Regions from separate parts of the Homo sapiens genome. Here region 2 is linked to region 1. Evidence: fine-mapped expression QTL. A gene starts in region 1. The other region holds a variant in brackets. All regions are shown on one strand. Distances are between the middles of the regions.

Evidence for each region.
Region 2: its variant is fine-mapped to the expression of NRARP in whole blood (INTERVAL, PIP above 0.99).

The regions. Positions count from the first base shown.
Region 1 is chr9:137,295,683-137,307,661 of GRCh38, forward strand. It overlaps NRARP (NOTCH regulated ankyrin repeat protein), which reads right to left and starts at 6,589. Exons shown (of 1, transcript NM_001004354.3): 1 at 3,949-6,589. The coding sequence starts at 6,246. The coding sequence ends at 5,902. EXD3 (exonuclease 3'-5' domain containing 3) reads right to left here. Exons shown (of 22, transcript NM_017820.5): 21 at 11,926-11,964; 22 at 11,214-11,581. The coding sequence ends at 11,268. RefSeq lists enhancers at 887-1,554, 3,195-4,088, 5,888-6,806, 11,395-11,979, 11,803-11,922 and silencers at 5,447-5,496, 5,617-5,676, 5,747-5,826, 6,509-7,148.
Region 2 is chr9:137,376,471-137,388,449 of GRCh38, forward strand. EXD3 (exonuclease 3'-5' domain containing 3) reads right to left here. Exons shown (of 22, transcript NM_017820.5): 3 at 6,843-6,907. Among named protein-coding and RNA genes, the nearest start is that of EXD3, 41 kb to the right of the region's middle. The variant C/T (reference allele first, on the strand shown) is at 6,904.

The sequences.
Region 1 (11,979 bases):
TCTCCGGCGAGGTCCGCGCTGGGTCGGACCCCCCTCCCCACCTGCGCCGGGCGCACTCTAGCCCCACGCGCGGCGGCGTCTGGTGGGCGGGGCGGGGTCCCCAGGACGAGCCGCGCGTCCCAGGCCGCGACCCCAGCGCTGGGGCGAGTGGGTGCGCGGCGCTGCGAGCCGGGTGCGCCCCCTCGGCCCGGCCCTCGGCTCTGCCCTCGCCCCTCGCGGTGCGGGCGCTTTCCGGGTGCGCAGGCGCCCCGCCCCCACCGTCCCCGCCGTCCCCACCGTCCCCGCCGTCCCCGCCTGGCGCGCTGGGGACCGGAATGGCCCGGCTGGTTTTGAATGTAGAGATCGGGCTTTGTGAGCGGCTGCCCCCACCCCCACATGCCCCCCACGGCCCGGCTCCCTCCCCCCGCACCCCGGCCCCAGCCCCCCGCCCTCATTAGCATAGCAGCTGCTCGCCGAGCCGGACGGCGCGGAGGAAAGGGCAGAGGCCTCGGGAATGAATGGGGGCCGCGGCTTTGGAGGGGCGAGAGAAGAAAGACCGACAGACGGACGCGCGGAGGACGGTCGGAAGGACGGCCCGGCAGAAGAATGCGCCGGACGGGTGTTGGGAGTTTCCAGCGGGGGGAGCGGCTCCGGGCGGTGGAGCCTGAGTGTGCGGGGGTGGGTGGAGGGCGGCCTCCCGGGGACCTCCAAGCCCCGGAGGGTCTGCACTGGAGGCCCTGGAAGCAGCAGTTGCGGAGGTTCCCAGACCTTCCACGGCCCCTCCCGTGTTCCAAGCCGTCGCATCCCGGCCTCAGGCTTCCTTCCCCAGGTGTCCCTGGCGCGGGGCCTCCTTTCCCGTCCTTCAAGGCCCAGGTGGACGCTGCCTCCTCCCCGCAGGCTCAGGGAGCTTCAGGGGCAGCTGGCCTTACCGATGTCGGAGGCTCTGTGCGCCGGGTGTTCTAGTGTCCACGACCCCTCTGTCCCAACCTGTGCTGAGCTATGAGGCCTTTGGGGGACAGACCCCAGCGGGCAGCTCCTTCCCGCTCTTCCTTCCCTGCACCCGTCTCCCTGGCTTCTAAGTCCTGTCCACCCTCCTCTGGCCTGCTGTGTCCTGGCTCCCACGCCTGCTGGCTTCAGACATCACTCTTTCTAGCTGACCATCTTCCTGCATTTCCTGGTCTTTCCGTGGCGTCTGTTCCAACGTCAGTGCTTCCTGCCTCCAGCCGGGGTCAGATCAGAGACAGACAGTTGGACGGGAGCCCAGCAGTCCTGGCGGGGGATGTGGGGCAGGCCCTGACCTTGCCGGGACTGTCTCCTTTCTCTCAGGGGTTCCCAGGGACCCAGCCCCCACCTGCCAGCCCCTCCACCGTGGCTGTCCTCCGTGCCTCTCGGCCGGACACCTCACCTGGCCTCCAAGGCACACCTGCAGATCTGGGAGGCCGGGGCTGACGGTGTAGGCTGGGCCACCCAGACCTTCTTTCTCACCCTGGCCACAAAGGGGCCTGCCTGGGGAGGGGGGTTGGGGACTCCCCAGTAACTCTGCCATAGGCCAGTACCCACCATAGCTGCTAATACCTACCAACACCCTGCTGCAGTAAGTGACCTGCTGAACACAGAAGCACTGGAAGAAGCGTGTGCACAGGCCCCTGAACTCAGGAGGGAAACAGGCATCAGAGACACATAGCAGCATCGACCTGGCCATACCCAGAGACCAGGTACTTCCTCCTTTTTGCCCATACCCCAGAGCTGCCCCCCCCTCCCCTTGTGGCCAGGGAGGCCCACTCTTGGCGCACAGGTGGCCAGCCTCCCCCTCCACTGAGCTGCTTCTAGGAATGTGCTACCCCGGGCTTCCTAACAAGGACAAGCCTGTAGGCTGTGCTCAGCGTCCCCGGACCGTCCTCCTGGGCTCTCAACACCTGGACCCTCCCAGCTGAGATTTCATTCATAAATCTGACCCCCAGAGGTGGGAAGAAAATTGTGGTTTTAGAGAGTGTGTCTACCTGCCCCTAGGGCTGTGCCTGGTTTTAGAGTGTGTCTACCCGCCCCCTAGGGCTGTGCCTGGTTTTAGAGTGTGTGTCTACCCGCCCCCTAGGGCTGTGCCTGGTTTTAGAGTGTGTGTCTACCTGCCCCCTAGGGCTGTGCCTGGTTTTAGAGTGTGTGTCTACCTGCCCCCTAGGGCTGTGCCTGGTTTTAGAGTGTGTGTCTACCTGCCCCCTAGGGCTGTGCCTGGTTTTAGAGTGTGTCTCTACCTGCTCCCTAGGGCTGTGCCTGGTTTTAGAGTGTGTGTCTACCTGCTCCCTAGGGCTGTGCCTGGTTTTAGAGTGTGTGTCTACCTGCTCCCTAGGGCTGTGCCTGGTTTTAGAGTGTGTCTACCTGCCCCCTAGGGCTGTGCCTGGTTTTAGAGTGTGTCTACCTGCTCCCTAGGGCTGTGCCTGGTCTTAGAGTGTGTGTCTACCTGCCCCCTAGGGCTGTGCCTGGCAAGAAAGGTCAGCGAGGCTGTCCCCAGTCATCCGGGCCGGTCAGTGTACACAGCGACACCTGGGGAGGAAGCAGACCCCCTCCAGGGCTCCACCCTCTCAGCCCTCCTCTCCTCAGCTGCCCACAGGGCTGCCCGGGCAGGCTTCCTTTTGTTCCTGCGCGAGAGAAGAGCAGCACAAGGCCTTTCTCAGTCAAATGTATCTTTCAGAAGACAGAATTTAAGGGAGCTGCAAAGAGTACCCTGGGGTGGCAGCCATGTGCCTGGGAGGCCCCTGGTGCCAGGCCAGGCCTCTCCGCAGTGGGAGAACTTCCCGGATATTGCAGGGGCAAGCAATTGGCTGGGACCCCACCCACCTGCAGGCTAATGCCAGTAACAAATGTTACCTTTGTTCTTCAGACCCTGGGTGGGGAAGGGTGGAGTGGTCCAGCATAGCCCTGGCCATCACTGGGGCTGCCTGACCTCATTCTCTGGTTACCCCAATCGTGTCCAGGTTCTTGTGGCCACTCTCCTTTCCAACGGCTGGGCATTCCCGGGCTGGCCCAGGGCAAGACTTCCCAAAGCCTGCTTCAGGGAGCTGGCCCATCTCCCAGGCCGATTCTGCAGGATAGGAAATGCGTAACCGACGGAAAACGCGCCTGGAAAACCAAGGGTAAACAGGGCGGCAGTGCAGAGTAGGAAGGCGGAGGCGTGGGGAAAGTTTGTGGGAAGGGCAGCCCTTCTGCGGACACGGTTTAGGGAAGCAGATTCCCCTTACATTCGGCAGAGGGGTTTGAAAAGTTGTTACCTTGTAACTCCCGGTCTTTGCCCTTCTCCAAGTTCTCTCTGCTGGCTGCTCTTGCTGGGGGCGGGTGTGCTCCCTTGCAGCCCGGTACAGGGCCCCCAGGGCCCCAAGGGCATCTCAGGAGTGGACCAAGAGTCTCTGCTCCTTTCTGTCAGGTGCCAGCAACAGCCATCCTGCTCTGCTCTCCTTTCTTGCGAATGGGAGTGCCCGGCCCCGATGCTCGTCTAACTCAGGGTCTGTGCTCTTTGGGGTGTTTTGACTCCAGGCCTGTGCAGGCCTCCAAAGCTCCCGGGTGCCTCCAGGGGACTTTCTACCTGCCAGGAGTGAGCAGCTATGGGATTTCCCCCCAATTTACAAGATACACTTTCTGTGCAGCAGGCAGCCTCCAGCATGACCCCCTAGCGGGTCAGAGTGGGCAGGGCTTCAGGCCGAACTCTCCTCTCCAGCGGAGGTCTCAGCTGCTTTGCTGGGGAACAGAGCAGAGGCTGTGACACCAGCTCTGGGCACGCTGGAGGTGCTGGGTCCTCGTGAGTCCTGTGTGCAGCCGGGTTGGGCTTGGCCGTTGCGTGGGGCTGGGAGCGAGTTTACCAGGCTCTGTCTTCAGACAAATACAAGCCAAGCATTGTGCACCCAGCACCCACAAACCGTGTCACAGCCTGACCCTCGTCCCCAGAGAGGGTGTTCTGCAACTTGTGCCAAAGCCAAGAAGGACCAAGAAACTTTTTTTTAATATAAAAAGATCAATGAAAAATTTATTTATAAATTTTTCACGCTGGGCTACAGGTCAATATCGTACACTCAGGAATGTGCTGCACAAACTTTATCCAGTTAGCAGTGATCACCCCGTGACCCACACACAGCTTCGATATAAGCCTAGAAAGTCTTAACATTAATTAACATAATTAAAAAGGTATTTGCATCTAGAAAAAATATACAGAAGAACTCCTTGTGGAGTAATCTGTGCCTCCATTTCAATGTCTGCTTGTTTCACTGACATTATCAATATATTCTTCTCACACAAAGTTTTATAAAAAGCGACGGAGGGCTGCCCGAATACGACCAGCCACGCACAAAGGGCCTCCACCCACCTGTGTCCTCAAGTGCTCCCCATTTCTGCACGAAGGGTCAGCAGCACTTCCATGAAGGGGAAACCTCATTTAAATTTGAATAATTCAGCCTCCCTTTTATTTCTCAGGATCAAAACAACAAGGGGTGTGGGGCTGCATAGAAAATTGGAGCCACAGAAACCAGGAAGGGCGCCTTTCAGGACAGAAAGTGACGCAGGAGAACCTCCCCGGGCCCAGGTCTCGACGCAACCCCTCCCCCACGGCAGGATTTCGGGTTCGAATTGAGTCCTCGAAGCTCTGGGAGGCTAAAAAGGGGCAAAACGATCCTTCAATTAACTCAGCCATTAGCACAAGAGATTCACAGTCTTATAGGTATTTTATAAAAATATAAATATGGGTACACTCTGTTGCCTTCACAACGCTGGATACATCGCCCTTTAAAATTGGGTTTATAACCAAGATTCAAAAAATACACCTAAAACTTGGCTTAAAATATGTTAATATTTTATATTCTGTCATAAATGTTATGACATTTAATTGTGGCAAATCCATTTACTTTTTTTAAAAAAGTGTGCAACCGTTAACTATGATAGAACGCACTAGAAAAGGTAACGAACCTTCACCCACCCCCCCGTGTCCCCGCCACCCTCGAGCGCCAGCGAGCTTCCAGGATCCTGGGGAAACTGCAAAACAAGCCGGTTTGGGGGATGGTGGCCTCATCCAGGAGGGGCGGGGGAGAGAGGCCCTGGGGCTTCCAAAACTCACGGATTTGAGGGAGAGGGAGAAGGAGGGAGGGGGAACAGAACGGGGTGGGGAGGTAGACGCGGGGAGAAGGGAAGGGGGAGGGACAGCACGGGAACACCATCAGGCTGGGCGGTATTTTCAGTGCAACCAAGAAATGGTAGACTCAAGTTTTTAGTTTTAAGACTAGAAAAAAATGCATCACTCCCCCCCATAACCACATTGACCACGCAGTGTTTTCCAAACAAAAAAACCAGGCGCACAAACTCCACCCACAAATGTACACACACAAGATAAATAGTTTAGAACACCAGCAACAGCGAACAGCCGAGCGTCTCCTCGGCCGCGCGCCAGCGGCGCGGACCTCGGACCTCGGGGCTGCTCCTCGGCTGCAGCCGGCATCGGCGCGTCCCGGGCCTGCGGGCGGGTCCTGAAGGCGGCGGCGGAGCGCTCCGAGTCCGCCTTCGGCTCCCGCCGCCCGCCTTTCACCTTCGGGAGAAAACATTTTGCGCAGAGGATCCGGTATCTCGGGATTCCGAACTTGCTGGTTGCGAGACTCAAATTTCAAAAGGGGCTGGAGCCCGCGCCCCGCCCCCACCCGCGAGGCGGCGGGCAGGCGAGCGGGTGGGGGCCGTGGGAAGCTGCTCCGGCCCGGCCGGGCCCGGCTAGGCCGCAGGGAGGCGCTCGGCCGGCGGGGCTGCCGGACCCTGGGGCCGGGACGCACGCGCCGTATTCGCCGTGGCCACGGGCCTTCTGGCGGGGCCTGCGAGCCGGGCGCGCACCGAGGTAGTTGGCGGGAAGGTACAGCAGAGACGACGCGGGCGCAGGGCCGGGGTCCGGGGTCCCGGCGGGCATCACCGGCCGCTGGCCGCGTACTTCGCCTTGGTGATGAGATAGAGCACGATGTCCTGGTGGCCACCGAACGCGGCGATGTGCAGCGCGCTCCAGCCGTCGCGGTTGGCCAGGCGGATGTCGGCGCCGAACTTGACCAGCAGCTTCACGAGCTCCAGGTTGCCGTCGATGACCGACTGGTGCAGCGCCGTCTGGCCCTCGGGCCCGAACGAGTTCACGTTGAACTCGCAGTTGGTCATGTTCTGCAGCAGCGACTGCAGCTCCTGCGTGTTGCCCTTGCGCACAGCCTCCTGGAAGATGCGCTGCGTCTGCGGCGCGGAGCAGGTGGACAGCTCGGCCTGGCTCATGCTGCCGCCGGGCGCGGGCCGCGGGCCGGGCCGGGGCTCAGCGCGGGCGGCGGCTGCGGCGCGGGCCCCCGGCTGTCTCGGGGCGCGCCTCGGCGCATGGAGGGCGCGGCGTCCCCGGGCCCCGCACGCCGCCTCTGGGCGCTCCGGGCGCTCGGGGCCGGGGGTCGCCGCCGCGGGGACCCCGCCGCATCCAGCCGCGCCCGGGTGGGCGACGGGGGCGCGCGCTCGGCTCGCGGGGGCCGGGCCCGGCCGGGGACGGCGGCGCCGCGCGGTCCCGGTCCCTACTCGGTTCGGCTGCGGCTCCCACGCGGTCCCAAGGCGCCTCCCCACGCGCCGCAGCACTAGCTCGCCCGCCGCGCCGGGGCGCCTTTTACCTTCTTTATATTTGCATAACAATGGCAGCCCGTGACGCGCGCGCCGGCGGCCCCGGGATTGGGCCGCGCCCACATGGGGGCGGGGCGTGGGCGGTGCCGTGCGCAGGGGTCCGGGGGCGGGTCCCGGCGGCGGCGCGCTTCGCGGCAGGGGGCGCTGGTCGCCGGCAGCGCCTGGGCGGGGGAGGCCAGGTGGCCGCCGGGGGGGTCCAGCTCCGTCGCCGCCGCCGTCCGCGCGCCCCCCGGGCGCTCCGCGTCTCTTTGCGGTCGTCCCGCCCCTTCTCCCTCCGGCCACCCGGGGAATTCCAAGCTCCCTCAGCAGCCAGACCCAGGCCTTGCCCGGTACCCGAGCGCGACCGCCAGGTGGCCCCGAGGGCGGCCTCTCCCGGGCAGGGGGTTCGCGGGCATCTCAGGCCCGTGGCGAAGGAGAGACCCCTCTGAGCGGAGAGGCGCGCGGCGACCCCGGCCAGCCCGCGCCTCCGGGCTCACCGTCCACGCGGGTGGCAACTCCAGGCCCTGACGTGGGGCCTTCAGCCACGCGGGTCCTTCCCGCGCGCGGGCAGCCTCATGGCCGCCGGCTCAGCCTATGTGTGCCCCAACCGTACTGATGCGAGGGGCCTCCGGCCGGCCACCGCGGCTTCTATCGCCTGGCGGTGAAGGGGGTTCCGCTGTCCTCTCGGGAGGAAGCCCCGGGCCGGGGCGCAGCGGGAGGGTCGGGACCGCGGCCTGCCTCCCTCTGCTGCCCACGCACCAGCATGCGGGACACATAGGTCCTGCCCAGGTGAGCAGGGCTAGGTGTGGCGCCAGGGCCAGAAGGGAATTCTGAAACGCCTGGCTTCCAAACTGTAAAACCCATTTTTATTGACCACTCTAACAATTGACCGGGAGGCACTAGCAGGGGAAGCACAGCGCATTTCCTCATTAGAGTTTTACAGTTTACAACTCGCTGTGGTCGTTGGAAATTAAGGAGGAGTGATTCTCAGGCGCGGAGCAGGAGGCCAGGCAGGCTGGGGCTTGAATTCCTTCTGAAGCCAAGCCGGGAATTCCGCGCAGGCAGCTCTGAGCTCGGGCTGGGGAGACCCCCATGCCAGGCCTTGTCTGAGGAGGCTTCCGCCCACCAGCTCCATGTCCCCACATCCGGCTCCCCACAGGGGTGTGTCCCCACCCCATGCTGTGCCCATACTGGCAGGAAAAACTGGGCAGGCTCCCTTCGGGACAGACCCTGGCTGACCGGAGCAGGGTCCTGAGGCCCTGGGGTCCTCCTGGTGGGCTGGGAACCTCTGTCCCTCAAAGGCACAGCTCAGAGCTCGCTCTGGTCTTCCTGGGGCCGTGATCCCGCTGGTTCTGTTCAGCTCTCTCCTTTGGGCCTCACTGCTTCTCCCAGGAGCTCTCAAGGGGGCCACGGAGGGTGGAGGGGTGCTCCCCAATATGCAGGTGAGGACACAGTGGAGTCCCGGAGTAGGCCCCCAGCAGAACAGAGATGGGCGCTGTGGAGCCCAGGCCCGGGGCAGGGATGGCATGGCCTGGCCTGCCGTGCTCTGCTGGGCACCTTTGGCCTCTTAAGGAGGGGGAGCCGCTGGGCTGCCTGCTGGTCCCTGGTGCTGGCTGTGTCTCTGGACCTCAGACCAGGGCTGGGTGTGCAGGGTGCTCTGAGCTCACTGTCAGGAGGGCAGGAGCTCTGTCCTGGGCATTGATGGATTTTGTGCATATGCCCAGGGCCCAGCCAGGCTAGACTGGCAAGAGGCAGAGGGCATGACTGGGGGGTGGGCAGAGCCCTTGGTGCTCAACAGGCACAGGGCCTCCCCTGGAGGGTGGGTGGTTTGCAAACAGGCCGAAGCCCAGGTGGGCTCAAGCCGGGCCTGGAGAAGGCATTTGGCTATGCTGTGGGCCAGGAGCAGGGCCTGGGAGAAAGTGCCGTCGGCATCCGTGGCGGCGGCAAACAAAGGGGCCCTGTGTGAGCTCGGTGTGGGAACGCGGGGCCCCGCCACGGGCGTGAAATCGGCAGCGGCCCCTGGCGAGGGCCAGGCGGTGCGGGCGCCCCGGCAGGCACAGTGAGGCTGGTGTGGCGGCCCTGCAGGGCGGGAACCTACCCCCTGCCCGGGGTCCAGAGCGGGGTCAGGCAGAGGTGGTGGGGCCTGCCACGGCAGTGTGGCTGTGGCCCAAGGCAGGTACCCAGGCTCATCTGTGGGACTCAGAGGCTGGCCACACCACACTGCCCACAGGGAGTTCGCTGAGTGGCCCTGGCTCCTGCTCCTCCACCGTGGCTCCCAGCTCCCCTGGGCACACCCACGGCCCTGAAGCTGCTCCATTTGAGGATGGGAAGGGGGGAGGGGCCGGGGGGGCAACAGCTCTGAGTCAGCACTTCCCGAATGTTTGCTGAGGGACATCCAAAAGGTGGACATCTGTTCCAAATGCTGGGACACGGGGGTCCACCTCCAGCCACCCAGTACTTGTGCTCGAGAGGACCCCCTGGTGTTTGCCGGTGTTGCTTGGAGCCTTCTGCTGTCTGGGAGGCCCTGCCCTGGGACCTGGCAACAGGCTCAGCTCCGACTGTGCAGCTGGGCCCTGTCCTTCCTCCCCTGCCTGTCCTGAGGATGCTGGCCCCGGGGGTGCCCTGCCTGTAACCCACCTGCCCCCAGAAGGCAATGGTGGGGCCCCTTCTCTTTGCATGCACCCCCTTTCCTTCCTTCCCTGGAGGCTCAGAGCAGTGGGCAACATGGGGAGGGAGGTCTGTGCGGGGTGGCCGGCCCGCCTGGGAGGGCCCAGGGAGGACAGCGCAGAAGGGGCAGCTGGCCAGAGCTGGGCCGAGGCCTGCGGCCACCTTAAAGGCGCTAAGCAGGGAGGGAGGGTGGCGGGCAGTGGGGGCGGGGCTTCCAGCTAATTCATTAAAATGTGTCGGGAGCGTGGGAAAGAGGAGAGTGTTTCTTCCCAGCAGCCCAGACACCTGGTAGAAGGGCTGAGAGGATCGAGATCAAATAACAAACACTCAGCCCGGGCCAGCACAGGCCGCGGCGGAGGAAGGACGCCCGGGCAGGAACTGCCGCAGACAATCCCTGCAACCGGTGGCTCCTGCCCGCCGGGATGGCTGCTCAAGGCATGGCCTGGCACTGGCAGCCTCGGCCACCCGGTCAGCCTGGTGTCTGTCCCCTAGCCCAGGAAGCAGCCTGATGGGTGCTGACCCCAGTGACCGAGGCGTGCTTCCAGCACCTGGACCAGGATGGGAACTGGGCAGAGAGCCTCACCCCCACCAAAGCCTGGGCCTGGGATGGACGCCGCAGAGCCAGGCCGAGCCTATGCTGGGTAGTGAGGGACGTGTGGAGGCGGGAAACACATATGGCACAGCACGGCCATGGCGGAAAGTGAGGGCGGGTGGAGGCGGGGCCAGCCGGGAGGGACGGAGGATGTGTGGTTCTGTCTCCTTGCGGCCTCTGCACCACTCTGCCTCCCTCTGCCGAGAGCCAGCAGCAGCACTTGGGCCTGTGTTGGGAGCAGGATGCAGCCAGGCCGGGTGGAGGGTGGGTGCCCTCAGCCACTCCCTCTTAAACCCTGCCAGGCAGGAGTTCGGTCCGGGGCTGCCTCCCCAGGACAGGAATGTGGAGCTGGGGTTCCCCTCCCGGAAGCAGATCCCGGTCCCAGAAGGCCCTGACCCTCTCCTGGGGTGCTGCTCTGCTCACCCTGGTGCCCCCACCTGACTCTCAGGCTCACGCCCTGCGGCTGCCCAGCAGGTCAAGGGGGCAGGTCAAAACTCGAGTTGGCTCTGACACAGGCCAGGCCCTCCCCGTCTCAGCCTCCCCCTCCCCATCTGTGAAATGACACCCCTGCTGGGGTTGCTGGGGGCTGAAGGGGTTGGGCTGCAGTCCTTAGGGGTACCCAGGGGCAGTGGCCAGCCCTGGTGTGGTCGGGACCCACAGGGAGGCCCCGACTGGGCCAGTCCAGGGATGCCCAAGGCCTTCGCACCCGAAGCCTGCTCCTTACTCTGGGCAGAGGCGGCTGCTTCTCCCCAGCCCGCCCCCAGGCCCCTGCTGCCCGAGGCTTCCGCCCACCTCCTCGGCCAAATCTGAGCTGATTTCCGCTCCAGGCAGGAAGCAGAGGAAAAGGATGTGGGTGAGGGGAGGGGGTACATTCCTGGGATGGTCCCTCCCCGGGCTTCTCCTCCTCTCCCACCTCTGGGACCCCCTGCCCTCCCTGCTCCACCTGACAGAGCACCCTCGGACCCTCAGGGTGGGCAGCAGTGGCCGCCTGGGCCTCAGCCTCCTCCCAGACAGGGGCAGCAGCAGCTACGTCCAGGCAGCTGTGAGGACGGAGACGTTGGCGTCCACGTGTGCAGAGCCCTGGCCATGGCCGGCTGCCCAGGTGCCTCTAGTGGGGGCTGTGGCTGCTGCTCTCCCGTGGGAATCACGCAGCCCTGACGGGGGTGATGGAGAGACCTCGTGGGTCCCACCAGGCTCGGGGTCCCAGCATCCTGACCATCTGGAAACCCTGTCTTCCCCCGACAGCGGCTCGGGCTGGGACCCCGCCTTGGTGTTCCCAGCGCTTGCTGGCACAAAGGGGCCCACGAGGGGTTTGTGGGGCGAGCATGAAACATGTGAGCCAGTCCACGGCCATGGGCCCAGCAGTCGGGCACTTTCCATGTTTATTGTCTGGCTGTCCTCAGAAGGGACTGCTGGCCGGGCTGGGGGCTGGGCTCGGCTCGCAGGGGCTGGGGGCGCTCTCCAGCATGTCTCGGAAGTGGGTGGCAACACGACCCAGGTGGGAGCCGTCCCAGAAGACCTTTCCACAGCCCGTGCAGCAGTAGAAGCACCGCAGCCCAGGTGTCCTCAGCACACCCACCGGGACCCCTGCCAGCTGCAGCCGGGTGCCGTCGGCCAGCATGTCCGGTGTCTCCGCCCGCAGGTCAGCCATCTGCAGCCAGCGGCAGGGGCGGTCATAGGTGCAGCCCTCAGGGGCTGCGTCTGGGGCTGGGCCTGGACAGATAGAAGTGGACTCCCTGAGCCCTCAGCCTTCGGGCACGGCCCCCAGGCTGCTCCCAGAGTGGTGCAGTTGGCGGCCCACGCTGAGCCCACGCTCACTCCTCAGCAGCTCCTCTTTCTGCTCCCTATCCGCTGACTCTGCGTCCTCCACTTCCTCTTCTGTGCCCACTTCTCCTATCCAGGGACCCCACCCCTCACCTTGCAGGCCCTAGGGCCTACAGGAGCCCCACAGAGCCCCCTCTGCCCGGCCGGGACCCAAGTCCCCCATTCTGGGGGAAGCCTGGCACCAGGGCCGCAGAGAAGCAGCTGTGTCCTTGGTGGGCGGTCCCGGGGCTCACCTGGCTCCTGCACCGCCTGGCTCTGGGTGGCCTCGTCACCTGTCAGTCAAGGAA
Region 2 (11,979 bases), 81 kb after region 1:
GGAGGCCGCCTCGAGAGACAAGTAGATTTACGGCCCAAAGTGTGCCTGCTGGAGTTTCCGGCCACCTTCACAGCCTCTTTCTGCCCATGGAGATGCCAACTCAACTTCCAGGTAGATAAGGCACAGAGACCCCCCCACCTGCTCGCTTCCTCCCGACCTTTTAAAAATGCCTCTTTTGGCCGGGGATGGTGGTTCACGCCTGTAATCCTAGCACTTTGGGAGGCCAAGGTGGGCGGATCAACTGAGGTCGGGAGTTGGAGACCAGCCTGACCAACATGGAGAAACCCCGTCTCTACTAAAAATACAAAATTAGCTAGGCATGGTGGCACATGCCTGTAATCCCAGCTGCTCGGGAGGCTGAGGCAGGAGAATTGCTTAAACTTGGGAGGCGGAGGTCGCGGTGAGCCGAGATTGCGCCACTGCTCTCCAGGCTGGGCGACAAGAGAGAATCTCCATCTCAAAAAAAAAAAAAAAAAAAGCCTCTTTCTGCTCCAAAAGCTAAGCCATACCCATACCCTTCAGGCATGAGGCCTGCGCTTCTTCCCTCAAGCCAGCTACGGAATAAAAAGTCACTTTCTTTCTACCAGACCTCATTCCTCTGACCTGGACTCTGTGAGCAGCAAGCGACTGACTGAGCGTGCAACGTGGTTACAGCCAAACACAGAGAGTCGGTGGGCAAATGCAGGAACAACGCATCAGCCAGGCGCAGTGGCCACGCCCGGAATCCCAGCACTTTGAGAAGACGAGGCAGGCCGATGGCTTGAGCTCAGGAGTTCAAGACAAGTCTGTGCAACATAGCGGAACTCCGTCTCTACCAAAAATACAAAAAATTAGCCAGCATAGTGGAGCCTGTAGTCCCAGCTACTTGGGAGGCTGAGGCAGGAGAATCCTTTGAACCCGGGAGGCGGAGGTTGTAGTGAGCTGAGATTGTGCCATTGCACTCCAGCCTGGGTGACAGAACAAGACTCTGTCTCTAAAAAAAAAAAAAAAAAGGGAAAGGCAGATTTCAAAAAGGACCTAAGGCTGGGTGTGGTGGCTCATGCCTGTAATCCCAGCACTTTGGGAGGCCAAGGTGGGAGGATCGCTTGAGGTCAGAAGTTTAAGACCAGACGTGCTGATGCGCACCTTTAATCTCAGCTACTCAGGAGGCTGAGGCAGGAGAATCGCTTGAACCTGGGAGGCGGAGGTTGCAGTGAGCTGAGATTGCGCCACTGCACTCCAGCCTGGGTGACGTAGAACCAGGCTCTGTCAAAAAAGAAAGGAAGGGAGGGAGGGAGGAAACCTAAGAGAACTTTGAAAACAAAAAATAGTCGTTGAATTTTTTTTTTTTTTTTTTTTCCTGGGACAGAGTCTTGCTCTGTCGCCCAGGCTGGAGTGCAGTGGTGCGATCTTGGCTCACTGCAATCTCTGCCTCCTCGGTTTAAGTGATTCTCCTGCCTCAGCCTCCCAGGTAGCTGGGATTACAGGTGCAGGCCACCACGCCTGGCCAAGTTTTTATATTTTTAGTAGAGATAGGGTTTCGCTATGTTGGCCAGACTGGTCTCAAACTCCTGACCTCGTGATTCGCCTACCTTGGCCTCCCAAAGTGCTGGGATTACAGGCATGAGCCACTGCACTTGGCTGAAATTTTTAATAAAAGTAGTAGTTTGACAGTTCCTCAAAAAGATAAACATGATTACCACATGACCCAGCAATTCTATTCCAGGCAGTTTCCCAAAGATTTATTTGTTTATTTATTTTTATTTATTTATTATTTGAGATGGAGTCTCACTCTGTCGTCCAGGCTGGAGTGCAGTGGCATGATCTTGGCTCACTGCAACCTCCGCCTCTGGGGTTTAAGTGATTCTCCTGCCTCAGCCTCGCAAATAGCAGGGACTACAGGTGCATGCCACCACGCTCGGCTAATTGTTGTATTTTTTGGTTTAGATGGGGTTTCGCCATTGTTGGCCAGGCTGGTCTTGAAGTCCTGACCTCAGGTGATCCTATCACCTCAGCCTCCTAAAGTGCTGGGATTACAGCCGTGAGCCACCACACCCGTCCTCCCCAAAGATTTAAAAACAGGGGCTCACGCAGATGTTTGTAGATGAATTTTCAGAGAAGTACTTATTTACAACGGCCAGAGGTGGAGATGGCGCAGATGACCCTCAGCTGTCTATGAAGAAACAGCATGTGGCCTGGCCACGTATTACTCAGCCACGGAAAAGGAGGAAGCTGACACAGACATCCACATAGACAAGCCTTGATATCGTGCTAAATGAAGAAGCAAGTCACAAAAGACCCCATGTTATGTGACCGCATGTGTGTGAACTGTCCAGAAGTGGCAAATCCAGAGGCAGAAAGCGGGTGAGCAGTGGCTAGGGCCTGTGTGACAAGGGGAATGGGGCGTCTGTGTGAGGGGTACAGGGTTTGTGGGTGACGGTGACCGTTGCCTGGGGCCGAGGGGAATGGGGCATCTGTGTGAGGGGTACGGGGTTTGTGGGTGACGGTGACCATTGCCTGGGGCCGAGGGGAATGGGGCATCTGTGTGAGGGGTACAAGGTTCGTGGGTGACGGTGACCGTTGCCTGGGGCCGAGGGGAATGGGGCGTCTGTGTGAGGGGTACGGGGTTTGTGGGTGACGGTGACCATTGCCTGTGGCCGAGGGGAATGGGGCATCTGTGTGAGGGGTACAGGGTTTGTGGGTGACGGTGACCGTTGCCTGGGGCCGAGGGGAATGGGGGCGTCTGTGTGAGGGGTACGGGGTTTGTGGGTGACGGTGACCGTTGCCTGGGGCCGAGGGGAATGGGGCGTCTGTGTGAGGGGTACGGGGTTTGTGGGTGACGGTGACCGTTGCCTGGGGCCGAGGGGAATGGGGGCGTCTGTGTGAGGGGTACAGGGTTTGCGGGTGACGGTGACCGTTGCCTGGGGCCGAGGGGAATGGGGGCGTCTGTGTGAGGGGTACGGGGTTTGTGGGTGACGGTGACCGTTGCCTGGGGCTGAGGGGAATGGGGCGTCTGTGTGAGGGGTACGGGGTTTGCGGGTGACGGTGACCGTTGCCTGGGGCCGAGGGGAATGGGGCGTCTGTGTGAGGGGTACGGGGTTTGCTTCTGAAGCGATGAACCATTCTGAAACCAGAAGAGGTGCACAGGTTGTGAAGATGTAGAAAGATTCACGAAGCACGACTGGGCGCTCCAGGCCATTGAGTCACTCATTGTGAAACGGCTGGTTTTATATGTCGTGCATCTTACCCCAATAAAGCATTCGATGAAGCCGACGCTCCGTGGCTCTGATTTGGGGTGCGCTCTCGCCCAGGCTGGTTTCTGTCACCCCCGGAGTTCTGCAGCACCCGTTCTAACCACAGCCCGCCTTCCCTCACTCCTGCTTCAGTCCCGTAAACCTTCTGCAAAATCCTGGCCCTCCAGACCCCAGCTGGGTCCTCCCCTCCAGGCCCCCAGTGGCAGCTGTGCCCCTTGTGTGCCCACGTCGGCCAGCGCAAGCCACACATGGACCCAGTGCCCACTGCACCCCTGCCAGCCTCAGGGTCCCAGCCCGTTGTTCCGGGAGACTTCAGTCCTGGCCCAGGCATCTCCTTCCAGCTCCTGTCCTTATCTTGGTGGCCTCAATGAACGTGCCAAGACCCTTGGGACCCATGGCTCTGAGACTGGGCTCCCCTTGCGCTGCCTGCCTCCCTCCCGGGGTCCCTGTGAAGGAAGCCGTCCCACCCACCCTGCCGGTCCCTCCTCCCTTCGAGCCCTTCACTGGTCTTCACTCCTCATTCCTGGTCCCCTCAGCTACAAAGAGCCTCCTGCTGTGCACGGAGAAAACAATGTGAGCTCCCCCACCCCAATGCCCCTCTGGGCGTCCCCCCCAATCCCCCTGCCAGTATCCCCCCCCACCCCAACCCCCGTCCGGGCATCCCCCTCAATCCTCCCGCCGGTATCCCCCCTCCTCCCCAACCCCCCTCCAGGCGTCCCCCCCAATCCCTCCGCCAGTATCCCCCGCACCCCAACCCCCCTCCGGGCATCCCCCCCAATCCCCCCACCGGTATCTCCCCCACCCCAACCCCCCTCTGGGCGTCCCCCCCGATAACGCCCACCAGTATCCCCCCTCTGGGCATCCCCCCCAATCCCTCCACTGGTTCCCCCCCACCCCAATGCCCCTCTGGGCATCCCCCCAATCCTCCCCACCCGTATCCCCCCTCCTCCCCAACCCCCCTCTGGGCATCCCCCCCAATCCCCCCGCCGGTATCCCCCTTCCTCCCTGCTGGCTGGCATCCCCTGCACTGAGCTGTTGGCTCCACTCACGGCTTCAGTAGTGGGGCTGGGGGGGTCCCATGGGCTCAGCAGCACCAGAAGGCCCCCCCGAGGGGCTGTTAGGATAGGACCACCCTGTTACAACAGGACCATCTTGGGAAGCCGAGGCAGGTGGATTGCTTGAGGTCAGGAGTTCAAGACCAGCCTGGCCAACATGGTGAAACCCTGTCTCTACTAAAAATACAAAAATAGCCAGGCGTGGTGTTGCACACCTATTAATCCCAGTTACTCATGAGGCTGAGGCAAGAGAATCACTTGAATCTGGGAGGCGGAGGTTACAGTGAGTCGAGATCATGCCACTGCACTCCAGCCTGGGTGACAGAGCAAGACTCTGTCTCACACACACACACACACACACACACGAAAAGCCTGGGTGCGGTGGCTCACACCTGTAATCCCAGCACTTTGGGAGGCCGAGGCGGGCGGATTACCTGAGGTCAGGAGTTCGAGAACAGCCTGGCCAACATGGTGAAACTCCGTCTCTACTAAAAATACAAAAAAAAAATTAGTCGGGCGTGGTGGCGCGCGCCTGTAATCCCAGCTACTCCGGAGGCTGAGGCAGGAGAATCCCTTGAACCCGGGAGGCGGAGCTTGCAGTGAGCCGAGATTGCACCACTGCACTCCAGCCTGGGTGACAGAACAAGACTCCTTCTCAAAAAAAAAAAAAAAAAAAAAAAAGACAGGAACACCCCACCACAGGCTGCTGGGCAGTGGGGCTGGGAAGGGCCCAATGAACCAGGGGAGCCCCACTCTGGGAGTGCGCCTACTCCAGGCCCTCACCCCGCCCCAGCCCTGCCTCCTCCTCCTGCCCGTCTCCCAGGCTGCTCTCACCCGCCCGGTGTGCTGGCTCCTCTCTCACGTTAGAGGAACACCTAAGCCCTCCCAGACGGCCAACAGTCCCATTGCCCCCTTTATACTGCAGACCGCCCCAAGGAGTTCTCCAAAATCCTGGTCTTCATCTCCCTCCTCTGGGGGCACCCGGCGTCTGTGCCACCATATGGGGGTCCCCAAGACCTCCATGTGCAGCCGGCTCTAGGGTTGGGCTTCTCCTCAGCACCCAGGACCCCCAAGGACCCCATCTTCAAGGCTCCTGGCCCACCCAGGGCCACTGGGCATGTGGCATTCGCCAGCTTGCTGGAATCCGGGAATGTGATGGAGGCGCGAGGAGGAGGTGAGAGCACGAGGAGGAGGTGAGGGCGCAGGGAGGAGGTGGGAGCACGCAGAGGAGGTGAGGACGCGGGGAGGAGGTGAGGACGCGGGGAGGAGGTGAGGGCGCGGGGAGGAGGTGAGGGCGCGCGGAGGAGGTGAGGGCGCGCGGTGGAGGTCAGGGCGGCGGTGGAGGTCAGGGCGGCGGTGGAGGTGAGGGCGCGGGGAGGAGGTGAGGGCGCGGGGAGGAGGTGGGAGCATGCGGAGGAGGTGAGGGCGCGCGGAGGAGGTGAGGGCACAGACACAGGCCCACCCCATGAAGATGAAATGCCTGACGGCCTCATGGCTGTCAGCGGAGCCCGGAGCAGATCTCAGCCCTGTCTGTGTATAAACAAGCGCTGCTCCAAGGAGACGCCAGGACGAATGTCAGGACATAGGGAGGAAAGGACAGTGGAATCCCACAACTCAGACACGTGGGGGGCGGGGGGCAGAGGGCGGGACCCGGGGAGGCTCACACCACACACGCAGGTGCCAAAGAGCGAGGAAGACTGAGCGTCACAGACGAAGGTCCGACAAGAGAGCCTGGAAATGGAACGGCAGAGGGAAATCTCAAAAGCAAGGACAGAGATTCACAAGCTGGAGGCCCAAGAAGCCACCGAGCTGATGGACAAACGAAAGCTGGCAGAGGTGGGTGCAGGAGAGAGGCAGACACAGGAGCAGGCAGCGCCAGGGCTGGGGTCAGAGGGCATCCCCCGGGCCTGCAGGGGTGACCTCAGGCCAGTGGATGTGGCACTCAGAGGAGCTGGGCTGGGGTTGGAGGGCGTCCCCCGGACCTGCAGGAGCGACCTCGGGCCAGAGGACGCGGCACTCAGGACTTGGCAGCTTCCTGTGCACAGGCCATTGCCACTAAGGAGCCGGAATCCGCGTCTGCCCCCACAGGGGGCCGGCCCTCCCTCTGTAGCCTCTCCCCTGGCCTCTCCCGCCCAGCCTCCTGCCCTGCTCAAGTCCCACCCCTTCCTAAGGCCTCCCTGTCCTGGACACCTGCCCCAGTGGCCACCCGGGCCTGGGTGCTCTGGCGGTGGCAGGACGGGGCCTCAGGCCTGGCAGTGCTGGCGACAGCTGTGTCCCTGCAGGTGAGTGGCCCCTGCGCCTCCCAGAGGTGACCTCAGAGGGGCTGCTGGGGCCAGGCAGTGCCTTTACCACCCTGGGGACTTGAGGAGGACCGCCCCCTGCCCCACACAGGCCACCCTGGAGGCGGTCTGGGGCAGCAGCTGTGCAGGACCCTGTGGCCGTGGGGGGCTGTGCAGCTTCCTGACCAGGGAGGCCTCCTGTTAGGCCAGTCTCTGCCCAACAGTCAGTTCTGCTGGCTGTGACTTGGCACGTGGTGGCTGCCACGTCCACTCACCTGCTTCCGCTCCCGCGTGGACCACAGGGTCTGCAGGGCCTGCAGGAGCAGGAGGGGGTCC[C/T]GGCCTGTGGAGATAAGATAACAGCCGTGGGAGGGAGAGGCAGGTGCAGGGGCTATCGCACAGCCCGCCGGGAAGTCCCTCCCACTGACCCGCAATGCCTGGGGCTCCTCTGGACCCGGGGGGCCGGGAACCCTCCCCCACCTCTGTCTGGCACACACACAACACACCTGCCAGCTGCGGCAGCACCCACCCTGTTCCTTCCCTGTGGCCCGTGGCCGCCCATCCAGCTGAGTCCGCCCAGCAGCACTTCAACCACGCTCAGCCCTGGGAGCTGGGCCTCATCTTTCAGCTGCAGGTGCAGAGCAGCCCTCGTGGGCCTGAGCCTCTACCTGCTCCGCCTGGCGCCCTCGGCAACCTCATCAGCATCTTCTCACCCAAACCCTGCACCGCAGTCCTGGCACCACGAGGACCCCAAGCCCCTGCCCTCTTTAGGTTTCGGTCCCCGGCCCTCCCGCGCCGCCCCCTCCCTCCAGCCCCGCCTGGGAGGCCCCCGACCTCACTGCAGCAAAAGTGCCAACCAAAGACGCTGCCCCACACGGACAGGGCCACCAGAGCGAGACCCGAGGGAGGTTTCCAGACAGAACCCAGGGGCTGCGTGGCTTGGCTTGGAGGCCGGTGGTGCAGGGGAGTGGAGACCCACTCAGGCCTGGTCATGTGGTAGGGTCAGGGTCGGAGGCCAGGGAGGGGCAGGTGCCAGCAGGGACTCCACAGGGGAGGCCTGAGGACAGGAGCCTGGGTGGATTCCGCAGTGAACTCCCCCTGGACCTGGGGGGCTGTGGAAGCTGCTGGGCCCCCCTGCAGGGCAGGACGGGAACAGGGAAGGCCCCGTGTTGCTGCGAGGGAGGCTGAGGACTCACATGAGATCAGATCAGACCTCAGCAGCTGGATTCTGCCACACACGCCAGAGAAGCGTGTGTGACGGGGGTCACCCCAGAGAGCCAGGCTGACTTAACAGGAGAGTCCAAGGTTATGATTCAGCCCAGGACCGGAACGGAGGAGAGAACCACGTGGCCCTTTCGGTAGACACAGAGCAAGTGTTCTAAAATTCAGTTCAGCTCACAATTTAAGAAATAACTCACCTGGGACGGGCAGGGAGCGCCCTGAACTGGGTAAAAGCCATGGGCGAGCGTGAGACGTGGTGCTCAGGGCAGCACGTAAGGATGCCACAGCCCGGCCTGGAGCCGTCCCAAGCAGGTGGCATCCAATGCAGAAGGAAAACAGAAACATCAGGACCGGCCGACAATGTGATTGATTACACAGAAAGCCACGAAGGATCAAAACTACGCCGTTAGAATTAACCAATGGGTTCGGCATCAATGCTCAGCACAAGCCAAAATGAGAAAATCAGCAATAAACAGAAATGGCCATTTCAAAAATCACTTACAACAGCATCAGCAATGTCAGATTCCCTGGGAGAAATGTAACAAAAGCAGCTCATGCAAAACAAAACCCAGCCGGCTGTCATCTCAGCACTTTGGGAGGCCGAGGCAGGTGGATCATTTGAGGTCAGGAGTTCGAGACCAGCCTGGCCAACGTGGTGAGACACTATCTCTACTAAAACTACAAAAGCTAGCTGGGCATGGTGGCGGGTGCCTGTAGTCCCAGCTACTCGGGAGGCTGAGGCAGGAGAACAGCATGAACCCGGGAGGCGGAGGTCGCAGTGAGCCGAGATCGGGCCACTGCACTCCAGCCTGGGCAACAGAGCGAGACTCCGTCTCAGACAAAAACCAAAAAACCATAAAACACCGTGGGGCGCCCAGGCTCCACCATGGCGTCTCTGCAGCCACCTGGGCCTGGGTGGCACAGGCCAGTGTTCCCGTCTGCGCTCAGAACCGTCCCACCATCGTGCACAGTGTGCTGCATACAGAGGCTGAGAACACTCAAATGTCCACTGTAGGAGGACGGAGCAAGTGCATCAGCCCCGGGACGATGCCCAGGTGGGGAGGACGTACCCCACCACGTGGCCATGGCAGGCAGTGTGACTGGCCCCGCATTCTGGGTGCTGCATGCTGGGCATGGCTGGCGATGGGGCCAGGGTGGGCTGGGCGGGGCGTGCTGTGGTGTGTTCACGATCATGTGCCGAGCCGCATCATGTGCTCTGCGTTCCTTCCTACACATGGGTTGCACTTCACAATAAACAAAAGAGACTTTTATTTTGTTATTTAAGTTAATATTTTATTTAGAGACGGAGTCTCACTGTCACCCAGGCTGGAGTGCAGTGCTGTGATCTCGGCTCACTGCAACCTCCACCTCTCAGGTTCGTGATTCTCGTGCCTCAGCCTCCGGAGTAGCTGGGAGTACAGGCGCTCACCGCTACGCCTGGCTAATTTTTGTATTTTTAGTAGAGACGGGTTTTCACCATGTTGGCCAGGCTGGTCTTGAACTCCTGAGCTCAATTGGTCCGTCCACCTCGGCCTCCCAAAGTGCTGGGATGACAGGCGTGAGCCACCGCGCCCAGCCCAGATTTTCTTTTAAAGCAGAGTTTCAGATGCGTGAGATGAGAAGGTTCTGCAGGTGGACGGTGGTGGCAGCTGTGCAGCCACATGAGTGCCCTTAATGCCACTGAGTGTACACAGGAAAGTGGTTAAAATGGTAAATTTCATGTTATGTATATTTCACATATTTTTAAAAGCAGGGTGAAGCTGGGCAAGGTGGCTTACACTTGTAATCCCAGCACTTTGGGAGGCTGAGGTGGGTGGGTCGCTTGAGCCCTGGAGTTTGAGACCAGCCTGGGCAAGACAGCAAGACCCCATCTCTACCAAAATAAATAAAATTAGCTGGGCATGGTGGCGCTCCTGAGGTCCCAGCCACTTGGGAGGCTGGGGTGGGAGCATGGCTGGAGCCTGGGAGGTTGAGGCTGCAGTGAGCCCTGATTGTGCCACTGCCCTCCAGCCTGGGGGACAGAGTGAGAACCTGTCAATCAATCCATCCATCAATAAGCAGGGTGTCCTTATTATTCTTTTTAAGTTCTCCAAATCGAGATCCACCTTTCCAGGTGGGAAGTTGGTGATGCCGGCCCTCCTACTCCCCAGTCAGTGTTGCTGGTCTTTGCCCTGCTCAGGTCCTGCTGGTTCTGCCCTCCAGGTGGGCAGGGTCTGCCCCCTCCCACCGACCTGGGCCACTCCAGATTCCCAGGGGACTCCCTGCCTTGACGCTGTGCCCTCAGACAACACCCAGCCGCGCAACACGGCACAGCCCTAGCATCCTACAGAAATATGGGGCAGGCCAGGCCACTTTATGGACTCCACCGTGGCCCCTCAGCCTTGAGAGTCAAAGCCAGGGCCCACCACATCCTCCCAGCCTCCAACCTCCGTGTACCTGGACCCTGCCCCTTGGGCCTGAGGCTGCTTCTCGAGCACCCAGCAGCCTGCCCGGAAGCCCCCTCAGCACCCCTGCTCCCTGCCTGCCTCCCTCAGCACCCCTGCTCCCTGCCTGGCCCCCTCAGCACACCTGCTCCCTGCCTGCCTCCCTCAGCACCCCTGCTCCCTGCCTGGCCCCCTCAGCACCCCTGCTCCCTGCCTGGCCCCCTCAGCACCCCTGCTCCCTGCCTGCCTCCCTCAGCACCCCTGCTCCCTGCCTGCCTCCCTCAGCACCCCTGCTCCCTGCCTGCCTCCCTCAGCACCCCCGCTCCCTGCCTGGCCCCCTCAGCACCCCTGCTCCCTGCCTGCCTCCCTCAGCACCCCTGCTCCGTGCTTGGCCCCCGGCCCTTGCTTCCTGCCTGGCCCCCGGCCCCTACTCCTTGTCTGCCTCCCTCAGCGCCTCTGTTCCCTGCCTGGCCCTCGGCCCCCGCTCCCTGCCTGGCCCCCGGCCCCTGCCCTTCTGCCCCTGTCGCTTCACTGTGGCCTCAACGCTGAGCCCCAGGGCAGTGACCGCCTGGGTCTCCTTCCAGGCCATGGCCGGTGCACGATGGACACTCCACGGTGCCCGCCCCAGCCATTCCAGGGCCAGCCGTGCACACATGGTGCTCACAGCCCACGCAACTGGGGAGCCCTGGGGAGCCCTGAGTCTCTCGGGCCAGAGCTGGAGGGACCCATGGCAGGTGTGGCGGGACAAGTGTCTGCCGTGCCGGGCTCAGACACGGCCATGCTGACACTCATCCCACACAATTGCTGGCTTCCTGTTCATACAACAGAAGAAAAACAGGATGTCCAGGGGCGGCTTCTGTCTGAACGAAGAAGACAAGCGAGCTCTGTGAGCCCCAGGGCTCAGCAGTGAGAGGACAGGGTGCCTGGGAGAGCCCTGGGGGACACACCCCACTCAGCACACAGCACCCCACGCACCCCAACTCAGGGATACCACGCAGGGGCACGGGGTCCGAGAAGGGCGGGTGGGGCTTGGAGCTGACACCGAGGGACCTCCCAGACCCGCTCTCCGGCCCCAGAAGCCCCAGCCAGCCCTCCCTGAGGTCGCCTCCTCGTGCAGTAGCTTCTGGGGGCCTTTGGTCCCCAGCGTGGATGTTTGGCCGGAGCTCCGTGGGTGGCCTCTGGCCCCCACCTCCACACCCAGGCCCAAGTTCCCTGAATTCGCCAAGTTCATCAGTGCTGCACCGATGCCTGGGACCTGCAGACAGGCAGGTCTAGGACGCTGAGACAGATGGCCCTGGCCAGGAGGCTGGGCCCTGACCCTGGACCCTGCCCCTTGGAACCATGTGGGTGGGGGCAGAGCGGGGCAGCTGTGTATTAGGAGGACACCTAGAAAAAACTCAAGCTCAAGAATAAAAGTCCCACAGTCCCCCGAATGTGGATTCACATCCAAGAGCTGGGCTGCTTCTCTCTGGGGGGCTGAATCATGGTCCCTGCCCAGCACCAGAGCCTGGTGCCCACACTGGCTTCCCCCCCAGCCACCCTCCCCAAAACGTGCCTGGGAGGGCTCAGGAACTCTGTGGGGTTGGCCTGAGGGTGTCCAGGCAGAGGCGGCCAGGACGGCTCCACCATCTGTCCCCAGGACGGCTCCCCAGCTGACACCCCCGCGCCGGCCGACGGGAGGACGGATGGTTGCAGGGACGCAGGATGGGCAGAACACAGGGACGCCACTTCCTCCAAACGACACCCGGCTAATGGGGCTGCCTTCACCTTG